Regions from separate parts of the Homo sapiens genome. Here region 2 is linked to region 1. The links come from fine-mapping of genetic effects on gene expression. A gene starts in region 1. The other region holds a variant in brackets. All regions are shown on one strand. Distances are from middle to middle.

Region 1 (8,454 bases):
AGCTATGAGAAGGCAGAGATTTTATTGAGGATGCCGCCTGTGGAATTTAAGCCTATGGCTGCACCAGTTCAGAGCCAGAGCATTCACCACTGGTGGGGCCCAGGTATTGGAAAACCATTTGCCAGACAGATGATGGTATGATGACATTTGTTTTTGTTTCTTATCTGTTTCTTCCCTCCCTATCACTTTTCCCTTTCTTGTCTTTCTCTCTTGGCCCTTCTTTCTACCTGCTTATCCTTTTGCTTTTCTTCCTCTACAATTCTACTCTCCTTTTCCTGTCTCTTTTCCAATCTATCCTCATTCCCTCCTCCTGCCTCCTCTCTTATCCTATACTTATGGCTGCTCAACTTCTGTCTATTCCTCTTTCCTCTCTCCTTCCCACCTGCCTGTTCATCCTATTTCTCTCTCCTGCCGCTCTATCCCCATTTTCCTACCCTGTCCTTGTCTTCTCGTGTTGTCCCTCTCTCCTCTTCGCCTTTCCCCTATCACCTCATCCAATATATGTCCCTTTCTTCCTCTCTGCCCCATGTCTTGCAGGGATTTGACCCATTCCGATTCGGAGTCCTCCCTCCACATGAGTGACCGCCAGCGTGTGGCCCCCAAACCTCCTCAGATGAGCCGTGCTGCAGACGAGGCTCTCAATGCCATGACTTCCAATGGCAGCCACCGGCTGATCGAGGGGGTCCACCCAGGGTCTCTGGTGGAGAAACTGCCTGACAGCCCTGCCCTGGCCAAGAAGGCATTACTGGCGCTGAACCATGGGCTGGACAAGGCCCACAGCCTGATGGAGCTGAGCCCCTCAGCCCCACCTGGTGGCTCTCCACATTTGGATTCTTCCCGTTCTCACAGCCCCAGCTCCCCAGACCCAGACACACCATCTCCAGTTGGGGACAGCCGAGCCCTGCAAGCCAGCCGAAACACACGCATTCCCCACCTGGCTGGCAAGAAGGCTGTGGCTGAGGAGGATAATGGCTCTATTGGCGAGGAAACAGACTCCAGCCCAGGCCGGAAGAAGTTTCCCCTCAAAATCTTTAAGAAGCCTCTTAAGAAGTAGGCAGGATGGGGTGGCAGTAAAGGGACAGCTTGTCCTTCCCTGGGTGTTCTGTCTCTCCTTCCCTCCCTTCCTTCAAGATAACTGGCCCCAAGAGTGGGGCATGGGAAGGGCTGGTCCAGGGGTCTGGGCACTGTACATACCTGCCCCCTCATCCTTGGGTCCTTCATTATTATTTATTAACTGACCACCATGGCCTGCCTGCCCTGCCTCCGTCCCAACCATGGGCTGCTGCTGTCACTCCCTCTCCACTTCAGTGCATGTCTTAGTTGCTGTTCCCTCAGCTCCCAGCTCCACCTCTGGGGTTCAGCTTCTGTCTCTGCTGTCCCAGTTTTGAGGTTTGGTTTCTTGTTTCTGTCTCTTGCTTTCGGGCTCCTCCCTCCCACCACTCCCCAACTTCCCCTAGCAGTTGCAGGGAAGATAGGACGAGTAGCTTCTGACATGTGTGCCTCAGATCTGTTCCACCCCACTCACAGTGGTTCTGTTTGCTCCAGACTGGGGCTAGGGCCTAATCTTTGAAGTTTGTTCTTTGGTATTGATGTGGGTCAGAAGGAGCCTCATCCTAATCTCACTCAGGCCTCCAGGGATCCATGGGGGAGTGAAACCAATTCTCAGAGAACAACCCACCAGAGACTTTTAAAGAGAGGCCAGGCTTGGGAATGGGTTGGGAGAGGCATCTGTTCATTGGAGCATGAGTGGATGCCAGAACTGTAGGTTATAAGGCAGTCACTTTTTCTCTCTACTCCCACCCACACCTGCCTCCCTCTTACCCCTGCTCCCCCACACTGCAGGAGGATTTGTCTCTAAGAGGTGCTGCCCCAAAGCTCCCCAAGCATCAATACTCCTAGGGCTCAGGACAAGTGGCTCCCCTGGCCAGGAGAGCCACAGCCATGATACAGGGCTCTTATGGAGCCCTGGAGTTGTTGGGCAAGGATGCTGTCATTTTTTGAACCAAAAGACAAACAGGTTAAAAGGAAAAAAAGTAATCTGAATTTCCCAAGTGCCTACGCTGCATATTCCCCTTGTTAGATCCCATTTTCATGTTACTTTGTAGCCTTGGCCAGAGGCTCAAAAAGGACACAACCAGTTTGGGGAAGGGGTGGCTAAGGAAGATGGTATAGGTGAAGGCGGCTGTGTGACCACTTTCCCCCACCCTTCCCACCCTCTAGACAACTCTCTCCCTTACCTGTTTTTGCTATGGCTGTAAAGGTATTTTTCCTCTGCCCCACTCCCTGCCATACCTTTATCCTGGGATCCTATTTTGGGCCTGGGGTGGGTATACCTGGGGCTGGTCTTAGGAGGGTGCTAGGCTGCAGACTGCCTTGTACTCCCTGGACACCCTCAAATGGGGTTTTCTGTGTTATTTCATAAAATTCTTTGAAGTCCAATAAAGCATGTAGGAGATTTTAACCACTGCTGGCTTTGACTCTCATTGTGTTCTCTGTGCTGTGGCATGATGGGATAAAGAGACAATCTTTCCTTTGCCCAGGGAAAATGAAACTTGAATGCACATGCCCAGAAGCTCTGTGGGCAGGGTTACCAGATAAATGCAGGATGACCAGTTAAATGTGAATTTCAGATAAACAGTTTTTAAAGTATAATTTTCTCTCATGCAGTATCTGGGACACATTTTTATTTGCTAAATTGGGAAACCCTATGTCTGGGTAAACTTGACCCTATCTATCCTATAACTTCACTTACGACTTTTAAAAAACATATCTATTTAATTTTTCTTTCTTTTTTTTTGTTTTTTTTGAGACGGCGTCTCACTCTCTTGCCTAGGCTAGGGTGCAATGGCGCGATCTTGGCTCACTGCAACCTCTGCCTCCAGCGTTCAAGCGATTCTTCTGCCTCAGCCTCCTGAGTAGCTGGGATTACAGGCGCGTGCTACCATGCCTGGCTACTTTTTGTATTTTTAGCAGCGGGGGGGTTTCACCACGTTGGTTAGGCTGGTCTCGAACTCCTGACCTCGTGATCTGCCCGCCTTGGCCTCCCATAGTGCTGGGATTACAGGAGTGAAGCACCGCGCTGGCCTACTTTTTCTATTTTTTGTAGAAATGGGGTCTCACTATGTTGCCCAGGCTTATCTCAACACCTGGCCTCACATGATGCTCCCGCCTTAGCCTCCCAAAATGCTGCAATTACAGGCTCACTTACGACTTTCCATGATTTTTGAAATTACTTCACAGGGAGCCTGGGCAGCTTCTGGAGGGCAGTGAGAAACCAACGAAAAGGCTTTAGGGAAAAGATGCCACAGATGAAATTTCATAAAGATCGCTTTGGGTAGCCCAAATCAGAAGCTTCTACACCAGCCTTACATATTACGGTTCTCATCTATTCTTATTCTCCACTCTAAGTCACCAAGTCCATCCTACCTCCACAAGGCAAATACCCTGTCTCTGCCACCATCCACTGAAGAACCCTAAAAGCAAATGGGTACTGACCCTGCCCTGCTTAAAATTCTCTCAGGGCTCTGATTTGCGTCAGGATAAAATCCAAACGCCATCGGCCTTGCGCGGTTTTCTTCCAGTTCCAGAGTGTCAGTCCTCTGGCCGATCTAAAAGCCCTGGGGCTCCAAGCTGCCCACGGCTGTGGAGCCTGGGCTGGAGCCCACAGCGGACGGCAGTGTTAGTATTATTATAATAAATGTCAGAGCAAGAAAAACGTTCCCGCCGGTTAGGTTTTGTTATTTCAAAAATAAATTAACCGCCTTTCCTCCGGCGGAGACGCGCAGGTGAGAGGGCGGCGCCTGACCCAGCGGGCTCTAGGTGCTACGCCAGGGCCCCGAGGGTCCCGAACTCGGCTTGCCCACACAAAACATGGTAGCAGGAGAGCAGCATTTCCGCCGGGCATGTCCATATCCAATGGGGCCCATGGGAGAGGCGTAGTCTTCTGGGTCTTGCCCAGACTCAACATGGCGGCTACACGTCGCCTGTCAGTCTGTGAAGCCTACCCCGGGCGTGGGCCGCAGCGTCGAGTAACGTCATTCGAACCCCGTCGCGCCCCTTTGTGCGTCACGGGTGGCGGGCGCGGGAAGGGGATTTGGATTGTTGCGCCTCTGCTCTGAAGAAAGTGCTGTCTGGCTCCAACTCCAGTTCTTTCCCCTGAGCAGCGCCTGGAACCTAACCCTTCCCACTCTGTCACCTTCTCGATCCCGCCGGCGCTTTAGAGCCGCAGTCCAGTCTTGGATCCTTCAGAGCCTCAGCCACTAGCTGCGATGCATGTGATCAAGCGAGGTGAGGGGGGGACGAGGTGGGCGAGAAGGAAGGTGAGGGGATGCGGGCTGCCGCCGCCGGAGCTGATGCCCAGACCGCCCGCCCGCCTTCGCTGCTTCCCGCCTTTCCCGCATTTCCCGCCGCGGCCTTCCGCCCTGTCAGCCCGCTCGGCCTTCTGTCTTCAGTCAGCCTGCCCCGAACCTCCTTCGGGCCTTCAGGCTGCGCCCCCTCGGCTTTGTCATCCTGCCGCCTTTCAAAAGGATAACACTTACCCCGTATCGAGTAGTGACTGCGTACGCCGAGCACTTGCCAGGCACTATTTTATTCCTCCCTGCAAGCCTCTGAGAGATGATTAGCTTATTACAGATGAGGAAACTGACGCTCAGAGCGAGGTGTCGCCGACTGACCCAAAGTCACCCATAGGTGACAATACGGTTTGATTTGAAAACCGTGGGGTTGGTGAGCTGTCTTAGGCACAGGGTCGGGGGGCAGCTAGGAAAGAAGGAGGGGGCCTCTCTACCCTCCGTAGGCACTTGTCAGTTTACTGATCTCTTTTGTGGGGTGAGGATAGGAGTGTGGCGTGGAAAAAACAGATCCCAGACAGACAGCACCCTCGAGTTCCTTTCCCTTCATGGGAAGAGATGCTGAATCAGAGAAGGGTGGCTGAGACATCTTCTGACAAGATGGGGACTGGGAAGAGTCAGGAACTCGTATTCTTTCTCAACAGTTCTTTTTCATTAGACTTGCCAAGTGCCCGCTTTGTGCCCAGCCCTTTGCTTGGCTTTGTGAGATTGTAGGAGGAGACAGTCCCTGCCTTGGGAACAGGCTTCATCGGGTTGGAAAAACAAGAGCAACATACTTTTAACAACCGCATGAGATACGTATGAACAAGTTTTGAGTTGAACCTACTTGCCTTTGTTAAAGCAATACAATGATTTCAAAATTGTAGGCACTTAGTAAATACTGGTTAATCGACTGGTTGTTTCTATTTTGTCCTCTAGGCTGTGAACATTTCAAAGATGGAGACTTGTTTGAGACAGAGTCTTGCTCTGTCACCCAGGATGGAATGCAGTGGTGTAATCATAGCTTACTGTAACCTTGAAGTCCTGGGCTCAAGCGATGCTCTTGCCTCAGCCTCTCAAGTAGCTGGGACTATAGGCATGCACCACCATGAGTGGCTAATTTTTAAAAATTTCTGGTAGTAAAGGAGTCTTGCTGTGTTTCCCAGTCTGGCCTTGAATTCCTGGCCTCAAACCATCCTCCCTTCCTTGGCTTCCCAAAGTGCTGGGAATACAAGCAAGATGGAGACTTTTCTGTTCACGTTTAGCACAGGACCTGACATGAACAGATTCTTAAAGAATGAATGAAAATAGTTGTATCAAAATGTAGGACACGATGAATGCTGTGAATAAGCAGGTAGTTGATTTGGTTTAACTACAGCCAATGTCCAGATTGGTTTAACTACAGACAAGAGTTGGAAAGGTGGACAGTAGTGGCCTTTCTTGTTTTTGGTATCTTGAGAACATCATTCTGTGAATTTTCCTAGCTCACATTTTAGCTGACCAAAGAGCAAAATAACATAGTGCACTTTTATTGATCCATTCATAAGAGTGAGAGCTGAGCATCTATTTTTGTATTTTTATTTTTTTACATTATTATTTATTTGTATTTTTTTAGAGAAGGAGTCTCGCTATGTTGCCCAGGCTTGTCTTGAACTCCTGGGCTCAAGCATTCTTCCCACTTCAGCCTCCCAAAGTGCTTGGATTACAGTGCTGGGAGCCACCGCACCTGGCTTGAGCATCTATTTTTTAAATCTTTAGATATGGGAGAGATGTTTAGGATGGTCTATGATAAGTCAGTAACAAAGATGAATTGAAAATGTATGGACTTAGATGACCAGAATGGGTAAAATTCAACCCTGTGTTGAATTTTGAACTTTTAGAGTCTACTTCTAAATACTTTCGTTTAAAAAGTGCTACCTTGGCCTGGCGTGGCAGGGCATGGTGGCTCACGCCTGTAATCCCAGCACTTTGGGAGGCTGAGGTGGGTGGATCATTTGAGGTGTGGAGTTTGAGACCAGCTGGGCCAACATGGTGGAACCCCGTCTCTACTAAAAACACAAAAGTTAGCCGGACGGTAGTGGTTTGCACCTGTAATCCCAGCTACTCAGGAGGCTGAGGCAGGAGAATCGCTTGAGCCTGGGAGGCAGAGGTTGCTGAAATCGTGCCATTGCACTCCAGTCTAGGCGACAGAGTGACACTCTGTCTCAAAAAAAAAAAAAAAAAAAAAAACCACAAAGTGCTAGCTATAACTAGCTCTAAAAAGCAGAGCTTATTTTCTCATTCCTTCATAGAGCACAATTTGATCCAGATGGTTCATGCTGTAGATTCTGCCATTGTAGCATTCAGCAAGACTTAATATACAACATGTACTTAGATTTGTTTGTTTCTTTTTTTTTTTATATTTCTATGTTTCTATATTTTAATGTTTTTTAATATGCATAGGGTTTTTGGTTTTCTGGACTTTTTTTGTACCCCCTTATTTTTGGCATGTCAGTGGAATAGCAGACTAACTCCTACAGTTTTTGTTAATTTTCTTTGAGATGGGGTCTTGCTCTGTCATCCAGGCTGGAGTGCAGTGGTGTGATCTCAGCTCACTGCAGTGTCTGCCTCCTGGGTTCAAGAGATTCTCCTGCCTCAGCCTCCTCAGTAGCTGGGACTACAGATGTGTGCCACCACGCCTGGCTAGTTTTTGTTATTTTTAATAACAAGGGCAACTGGAAGTTGACTTTGAAGTACCTACTGAATATGCTAATGTCTTGCTAAACACTGTGAGGGCAGTAATGGAGAAGGCAGCTCTATCTTCAAAGAACTTAAAATTGTTAGGGATTTAGGAACAATCCATATGAAAATTATTAGATAGAAGAGAATAGTAGATGAGTTTTTTTCATCTGCTATCTTGAGCTATTTTTCCTAATGGGAGAGTATCATTCCTCAAGGAGATTATGGTTAAAAAAATAAACATTGAGAACCATTGCAGTAAATGACAAAGTAGCTAACTGAGTTGTAAACTGTTTTGGAATTTAGTGTAGTATTTTCAAAACTTTGGATTGTAACTCACAGTAAAAAACAAAACATTTTACAGACATGTGTATATATGTGGATACACATAAAATGATACAAAAGTTTACGAAATAATGTCTTTGAAAGCATCCATTTGCACTCTAATCTTTCTTTTATTCCAGATTCTTTCCCTATCCCTGCCTCCCTCCCTCCCTTCCTTCCTCCCTTTCTTCCTCCCTCCCTTCCTTCCCTCCCTCCTTGCTTCCTTCCTTCCTTTCTCCCTCCCTTCTTTCCTGCCCTCCTCCCTCCCTCCCCTCCCTCTCCCCCTCCCTCCGTCCCTTCCTCCTTCCTTCCTTCCTTCCTTCCTATTCCATTCACAGCCTGCTAATATTATTTTACAACTCTGTGGATACCGTGCTGTTCACCGGGATTGCAGTGATGAGTAGGCAGACATGGTTCCAGCTTCCAAAGATCCTACAATCAATTGAGAAAGATAGACAAATAAAGAAGTAATATGATAAAATATGATAAATACTCTGATAGGTAAAGTATAGGCAGTAGAGGCCATTCATTCAGTTATTCATAAAGCATTTATTCAGCACCTCTTTGTGCTAGGAACCGTTGTAGGCATTAGAGATTCTGCAGTGAACAAAGCTAAATTACATTTCTCATTGAGTTGACTTCTTGGTGTGGGTGGGAGTGGTAAGTGTATATAAGAAATAAGAAGTAAACATAATAATCAGTTAATTTCAGATACTGATTAATGAGATGATAGTAAAACAGGATCATGTGATAAAGATGAATGAGAAAATAACCTTGGATTGGGTAGCCAGGAAAGGCTTCTCTGAGAAGCCAACATTTGAGCTGAACCCTAAATAGTATTAAGAGCTAGTAATGTGAGATCTGTGGCCTGAACATTCTCGGCAGAGGGAATTAGAAAGTTTGTATCCTGTGGAAAAGGCACGCATCCTTGGTCTTACAGGATTAGGGAAGTCTTCCTGAAGAGAGAAGAATGAAAGACAGTTTATAGCCAAGAGGAAATCACACTAGTATGCTAGAGGATTTTTTAATTTTATTTTTTATTTTTTGAGACGGAGTCTTGCTCTGTTGCCCAGGCTGGAGTGCA
Region 2 (8,550 bases), 750 kb after region 1:
AAACTCTTGCCTTCTGTACACCCACAGGCCCAATACCACATGGAAGCTGCTATGGCTTGGGACCTGCACCCTCTGAAGGAATAGTCCGAGCTGTACCTTGGCTCCTTTTAGCAATGGCTGGAGCTGGAGTGGCTGGAACGCAGGGTGCCATGTCTCAAGGATGCATAGATCAATGGGGCCCTGGGCCTGGCTCACAAAACCACTTCTCCCTCCTTGGCCTCCAGGCCTGTAGTGGGAGGGGCTGCAGTGAAGGTCTGAAATACCTGGGAGACATTTTCCCCATTGTGGTGGCTATTAACGTTTGGCTCCTCTTTATTTATTCAAATTTATGCAGCTGGCTCTAATTTATCCCCAGAAAAATAGGTTTTTATTGCCTACCACATGGTCAGGCTGCAAATTTCCCAAACTCATATGTTCTGCTTCCCTTTTAAATATAAATTTCAGTTTCAGATATAAGCTCTTTGTTCATGCATATGGGTGTACACCGTTATAAGAAGAAAATAAATAATAAAGATCAGAGCAGAAATAAATAAAATTGAAACAAAGAAAACAACACAAATGATCAATAAAACAAAAAGGTTTTTTGAAAAGTTAAATTTCCCCAAAATTGACCAACTTTTAGCCAGACTAAGAAAGAATAAGAGATGATCCAAATAAATAAAATTTGAAATGAAAAAGGAAACATTACAACTGATACTGAAGAAATTTAAAGGATAATGGCTATCACGAGCAAGTATATGCCAATAAATTAGAAAATCTAGAAGTAATGGAGAAGTTCCTAGATGCATACACCCTACCAAGATTGAACCACGAAGAAATCCAAAATATAAACAGACAAATAACAAGTAACAAGATCAAAGCCACAATGAAAAGCCTTCCCATAAAGAAAAGCCTGGGATACGATGGATTCACTGCTGAATTCCACCAACCAATTAAATAATTAATACCAATCCTACTCAAACTATTCCAAAATATGGAAGAGGAAGGAATACTTCCACACTCATTCTATGAGGTCAGTATTACCATGATACTAAAACCAAAGACTCATCAAAAAAAGAAAACTACAGGCCAGTATCTCTGATAAATGTTGATGCAAAAATCCTCAACAAAATACTAGCAAGCTGAATTCAAAAAAACATTAGAAAGATAATTCATCATGAGCAAGTGGGCTGTATCCCTGGGACACAAGAATGGTTCAACATATGAAAATCAATCAATGGGATACATTCTATCAACAGAATGAAGGATAAAAACCATATGATCATTTCAATTAATGCTGAAAAAGCATGTGACAAAATTCAACACCCCTTCATAATAAAATCCCTTAAAATGGGTATAGAAGGAACATATCTCAAAATAGTAAAAGCCAGATATGACAGACCCACAACTAGTATCACACTGAGGAAAAACTGAAAGCCTTTACTCTAAGATCTAAAACACTAGAAGGATGTTCACTGTCACCACTATTATTCAACACAGTATTGGAAGTCCTAGCTAGAGTATTAAGAAAAGGAAATAAAGTCATCCAAATTGGAATGGAAAAATTCAGATTATTCTTATTTTCAGAAGATACGATCTTATATTTGGAAAAACCTAGAGACTTTACCAAAACAATTATTAGAACTGAGGAACAAATTCAGTAAATTTGCAGGATACAAAATTAGCATACAAAAATCAGTAGCATTTCTATAAGCCAACAGTGATCAAAAATTAAAAAGAAAAAGAAATTAAAAAGTAATCTCATTTACAATAGCCACATGTAAAATTAAATACCTAAAAATTAATTGAACCAAATAAATAAAAGATATCTACAATGAAAACTATAAAACACGGATGAAAGAAGTTGAAGAGGGTACCAAGAAATTGAAAAGTATTCTAAGTTCATGGACTGAAAGAATAAATATTGTTAAAATGTCCATACCGTCCAAAGCACTCTATAGATTTAATGCAATTCCAATGAAAATATCAATGACATTCTTCACAGAAATAGAAAAAACAATCTTAATTTGTATGGAACCATAAAATAACCAGAATAGCCAAATTATTTAAGTGAAAACTACTACAGAAAACTTTGGGGAAACTACTACAAAAAAACATTGGGGAAATTCTCCAGGACATTGATCTGGGTAAAAATTTCTTGAGCAATATCCCACAAGCACAGGCAACCTAAGCAAAAATGGACAAATAGGATCACATTAAGTTAAAAAGCTTCTGCATAGCAAATAAAACAATCCACAAAGTGAAGAGACAACCCACAGAATGGAAGGAAATATTTGCAAACTACCCATCTGACAAAGGATTAATAACTAGAATATATAAGGAGCTCTACAACTCCACATGGAAAAAAACCAATAATCTAATCAATAATGGGCAAAAGAGGTACATAAACATTTCTCAAATGAAGAAAAACAATGACAAACAGGCATCTGTAAAAGTTCTCCACATCCTTGATCATCAGAGAAACTCAAATCAAAGCTATCATGAGATCTCATCTCACTCCAGTTAAAATGGCTGATATCCAAAAGACAGACAATGCTGCCAAGGTGGGAATGTAAGTAAGTACAACTACTTTGGAGAATGGTTTAGAGGTTCCTCAATAAACTAAAATTAGAGCTTCCCTATGATCCAGCTATCCCACTGCTGTTATATACCCAAAAGAAAGGAAATCAGTATATTAAAGACGTATCTGCACTCCCATGTTTGCTGCAGCATGGTTCACAATAGCTATGATTTGGAAGCAACCTAAGCATTCATCAACAGACAAATAGATAAAGAAAATGTGCTATATATACACAATGGAGTACTATTCAGCCATAAAATGAATGAGATCCTATCATTTGCAACAGTATGGATGAAATTAAAGGTCATTATATTAAGTGACATATGCCAGGCACAGAAAAACAAACATTGCATGTTCTCACTTATTTGTGGGATCTAAAAATGAAAACAATTGTACTCATGGACAAAGAGAATAGGATGTTTACCAGAGGCTGGGAAGGGTAGTGGGAACCTGGGGGAGAGGTGAGCATGGTTAATGGGTATAAAAAATAATAGAAAGAATGAATAAGACCTACTATTTGATAGTGCAATAGAGTGACTCTAGTCAATAATAACTTAATCACACGTTTTAAGATATCTAAAGGAATGTAATTGGATTGTTTATAACACAGAGGATAACTGCTTGAGGGGATAGATACCCCATTCTTCATGATGTGATTATTTCACATTGCATGCCTGTATCAAAACATCTCATGTACCCCATAAATATATAAACCTACTGTGTACCCACAAAAATAAAAAATATATATTTATTAAAGTTAGTCAATTATTGTGCTACAACAATAGTGCTCCTCATAACACACATGTGATTAATTGTATTGGCATCAAAAAAATAGATTAACCATGTTCACAGAATAAGACTGTAATTACTCTGTTAGTTAACTTTTGCTGTATACCAACTACAAAATATCAGATGCTTACAACTACAGCATTTGTTATAATTCTCACTGGTCAGTAGGTTGTCAGAGACCCTCTTCATCTAGGCTGCTTTGACTTGCTGGCTTTGCTTCAGTTCTCTGGGAACCAGGGACTGGCTCCAGGCTCTGAATTTGGCTCAGGTTTGCACCATGTACCTCCTTCTGGAAACCAGATTCAAGGGGAATTACCTACTAGGTTAGCACTACCCCAGTACAAGAAATCAAACCCTGCAGCAAAATCACACTGAAGCTCTTGCTTTTATCACATCCACTAACATCCTATTGACCAAAACAAGTCATGAGGACCACAATGGCCAGAGAAAATTATGTGTCTAAAGTGAGAGTGAATGTAAATACAATCCGTCCACTTTGTCCCTCCTGATGTGGATGTGAATGTATACTGCTGCTACTAGGAAGTAAAGAATTGAGACCGATAATTCCAAATGCCACTTGTAAGATTCCATTTACATAAAACATTATAAGTGTTCACTAAACAGATAATTATAGTTAAGTTTGGGGGATGTAATTTAAGATTATTCTTATTTGTTCTATTTTTTCTGAAATATGCAAAAATTTAAAAAATTAAATTAAATTTTATTTTAAACTGACAATAATTATGCATAGTCATAGTGATGTTTTGGTGCATACCATGTATAGTGATCAGATCAGGGTGATTAGCATATTTATAATCTCAAACATTTCTCATTTCTTTGTGTTGAGGACATTCAATATACATATGTATTCAAAAATATACTAACATTTTGAAAACTAAATGAAGAATTAAAAAAATTATATTCCCTCTTTTTTTCCTGGCCTGATCAGAGTTAAATAACCTATCTCTTGGTGTGAAGAATCTAAATGAGAGACTTACTTGCATTTTCCTCATGTATCTAATTCCTAAGGATTGGTCAGAATTCTTACTTCTTAAGGAGGTACAATACAAATGGAAGATCTTCTATCTAGTTGAGAAGAATGCTTCTGTCTTATTTTTCCTTTGCTATGTAGATGATTAACTCTTCTAGCTTTATCCAGTATTAAGGTATAGATATAGTGACAGGACTAACAACAATAAGATAACAACAGGCACACACTTGGATAGTTGTGACAAGATCTGGACTCTGGCCCTTCCTATGTCATTGATATGTAATGTACCAGTGGGTGGATCATGTTCATTCTTTGGGGCTTGTAAGTTTGCATCAATATACACAGGCATACTTCCAGGGACAGGAAGCTACATGCACATATATGCACTTATGTGTACGTGAATGATCATTTCATGCTTGGTGAGCTGAGTTCTCACAGAAACTTTAGTATCAGGAGCCCTGTACCACCAAACACGGAGGGACATCCTACTCACTGAGCACCACCCACCTTCCTGGGCTGCAACCTGTTGAGTATTCTCTTTCTAATCTCCTTCATCTTGACACTATAGAGAATAGGGTTTATCAATGGAGGAAGAAGGAAATGGACATAGGATAGAAGAGTATGGGTATGCTGAGTGATTGGCAGCTCAGGATGGTTAATCAGTGCCAGGAGGATCATAG[G/T]GATATAGAAGAGGAGCACTGCAGAGAGGTGGGCAGCACAGGTTTGACCAGCCTTCCAGCGATCCTCTCTGGACTCCACACCTTGCAACACCTTGCCAATCAGGCCATAGGAGAAGAAAATAAGCAGGGGGTCCAAACCCATGGCTGAAAGAACCACAAATAGGCTGTAGGCTGCACCCCAAGCTTCTGGGCAGGCCAAACGAGCCACATCTGGATGCAAGCAATAAGAATGGGTTAGGACCTGTGGGAGGCAGTAGGGCATGTAGGCCAGCAGGAATGGCAGGGGCAGATGGAGACCCAGGCATCGAAAAGAAATGGCCAGGCTGATTTTGCTAATTACACCATTGGTGAGGAGCGCTGGGTAGTGGAGAGGTCGGCAGATGGCCAGTGCCCGATCAATGGACATGGCGAGCAAGACAGAGGACTCCATGACAGAAAAGACATGGATAAAAACCATCTGTAGAAGGCAGGCTGAGGCAGGGACAGTGTGAGCACCAGCAAGGGCGATGCCCAGCAGTGTGGGCATCAGGGCAGTGACCAATCCAATATCAGACACACTAAGCAAGAAGAGGAAGAAGTGCATTGGGCGGTGCAGGGCGGGCTGCAGGGCAATGATCCAGAGGATGGTGCCATTTCCCAGTGCAGAGAGAAGGTAGACAGCAATGAGGGGCAATGTCCACCAGGAGGGTGCACCTGATAGGCCTGGCATGCCCACCAGCAAGAAGGTGGGGGCCATTGAAGTGCTGCTATTGGGGGCTATCTGAGTTGGTAATGTTGACATAGTTCAGGATTCCACGTTGAACTCTGGAACCTGAAAAATGATTAGAAAGGTTTACTTAATCGCGTGCCAAATTTGCATGAAACGTTCCAAAATAGCCTGCATCTTCCCTTCCCTGACTCATGCACTCACATACACGTACACATATACACATTTCCTCCCTGTGCACGCACCCATCCTAATAGTATATGCAGCATTCATTCCTTGCCTTTGAGGTTTTTCTATAGCTGTCCTCATAGCTCTGTGGTTCTGTTTCTTTTCCTAGATTGTTTTCACATGTTTTTTTAGCTTGCCTCTCCCTGTAGTGTTATCCTATTTTTTCCCTCCCTTTATGACAAACACTTTAGGAAACAGTCCATTTATCCATATTTTTTTCTCTTCCCAACCCCAGACAGTCTGACTTCTAGACTGCCTTAAGATACTTACATTTTGGTGCACTTTAACTGTTCTTATTAAGTCCCCAATTACTCCTTTATTTCTAAATTAAGGGGCACTCATTTTTTCTAAGCTTGATTTATTTCTTAATGAGCTTTGGCTACTATGGATCTATTTTTTACTTTTTTAAAAATTCTCCCTTTCAGAATTTAGCCTTTTACTTAACTTTGCTGTGTCCCTATGATTTATACATGGGTATTTAAAATTTTTATTTTATTGAAATGTAATAATTGCACATATTTAAAGGGGTGCATGTGGTATTTTGTTACATGCATAGAATGTGAAATGATAAAGTCAGGGTATTTAGGACATCCATCGCCTTGAGTAATTATAATTTTTATATGTTGGAACATTTCAAGTTCTGTCTACTAGCTATTTTGAAATATACAATACATTGTTGTTAACTATAGTCACCCTACTTGGCTACTGAACATTATAACTTATTTCTTCTATCTAAGTGTATGTTTATATTTTTGAGATATTTTTCCTTGGCCCTCTTTATTTTCCTAAGTGGTCTTATCTACTCTCATGACATCAACTCGAGTCTACAAACAGATGAATTACTAATATATATTCCCAGATCCTTCTAGGTTCATCTTACCTTGGATGTTCCAGGCAATTTAAATTCAAATAATCCAAAGCAGATCTTAACAGACACATCTTAATGCCTCTTTCAGAGTCATCAGTTAGGAAACAGTGAAGAGGAATTTATGTCAATAGCAAAACCAATAAGACACTCGTTTGTTCCCTAAGTCAGTTGTTGGTGCCACCATTAATCAATTTCCCAAAATAAAAACCTGAGAATTAGCTTCTCCTCACATGTAATATCCAAATATTATTTATAATTTTAACAAGAAGGACTGGACACACACCATAGTCATATTTTCTTCCCTGCCCAAATGCCCAGAAAGATTGGAACTGAAATTCTGGACAAAAAGACCACGAAAATTGGGATCTAAAGAAAAGTAAAATAAAAAAACTTGCTAGGTTTTGTTTTCAGGATAATGATATAGATACAAGTTAACCCTAAACATTTATTACAAAAATTCCAAATACATATGTTATAAAATATTATGTTAAAATTTTAAATAAAATATAACTTTCAAGCTAAAAAAGGAAGATAAATGCAACAAAAACCTTAATCCCACAGACTTTTAAAAAGCAATAAATAGAAACAGACATTCATTTCCAGTGTGATGGAGTGAGGAGGCTAACCCTAAACATTTATTACAAAAATTCCAAATACATATGTTATAAAATATTATGTTAAATTTTTTAATAAAATATAACTTTCAAGCTAAAAAAGGAAGATAAATGCAACAAAACCCTTAATCCCACAGACTTTTAAAAAGCAATAAATAGAAACAGACATTCATTTCCAGTGTGATGGAGTGAGGAGGCTAACACATCCTCTCCCCTACAAAGCATGTATAAAGCTGGCAAGCTGTCAATAAGATCCATTTTGACACCCTGGAAATCCATTAGAGATATAAGCTTGTTTATTGAAACGACTGAACTTTGGAAAATAACAGCCAGTTGCCTAGCATTTTGGCAAGGCTGCTTCATTCCACTGCCTCCAGCTCTATCAACAGTGGTCAGATAAGGAAACCCCACAGCTTTGTTCCTGTACTCGTGAGGCAGCTTCCGTGATTTGGAGCTCTGTCAGTTAGCACGGCAATTTTGGTGGCAAGGAAATAGGGAGGGCCAGCAACTCCACTACCCTGAGGTTCTGGTCCTCTTTGGGGTAATGTGTCCACCAGCAGACTAGGTGAGGATTTAACACAGAGTTCTGGCTGAAAAATAAAACCAGATGGTAACTGGAATCTATAGGAAGAAATGAAGAGTACTGGACATACTCAATATATGGGTAAATGTGAAGGACTCTATACACGTTTTAGTTAATTTTCCCTAAATTTCCTTAACAGGCTTGAATTGGATGAAAAAATAATTATAATACTCTATTGTCGAGTAAATTATATATATTATATATGTGTGTGTCTGTATATGTATGTATATATATTATAATAATAGCACAACAAGGGGGAGGAATTAAACATTTATTAAAACAAAACTTTTGAATTTTACTGGAATTAAGTTAATATTATTCTGAAGTAAATTATATAGTAATGTGCATATTGTAATTTATAGAACAATCACTAATAAAATGGTAAAAAAATAAAAAGATGAATTGAAATCATTCACCAAAAACATTTAAACAAATGTAATGCAATGAAAAAGCAGTGGAACAAAAAAAGACACAAGACTAACAGAAAACAAATAGCAAAATGACAGGTGAAATTTCAACCATATCAATAAT

What was found.
Region 2: its variant is fine-mapped to the expression of RRM1 in pancreas (GTEx, PIP above 0.99).

Annotation. Positions count from the first base shown.
Region 1 is chr11:4,090,745-4,099,198 of GRCh38, forward strand. RRM1 (ribonucleotide reductase catalytic subunit M1) reads left to right here and starts at 4,055. Exons shown (of 19, transcript NM_001033.5): 1 at 4,055-4,287. The coding sequence starts at 4,269. It overlaps STIM1 (stromal interaction molecule 1), which reads left to right. Exons shown (of 13, transcript NM_001382567.1): 13 at 538-2,464. The coding sequence ends at 1,054. RefSeq lists a silencer at 715-1,009 and enhancers at 3,685-3,754, 3,815-4,284.
Region 2 is chr11:4,843,408-4,851,957 of GRCh38, forward strand. All of the region lies in intron 2 of MMP26 (matrix metallopeptidase 26), which reads left to right. OR51S1 (olfactory receptor family 51 subfamily S member 1) reads right to left here and starts at 5,801. Exons shown (of 1, transcript NM_001004758.1): 1 at 4,830-5,801. The coding sequence starts at 5,801. The coding sequence ends at 4,830. The variant G/T (reference allele first, on the strand shown) is at 5,021.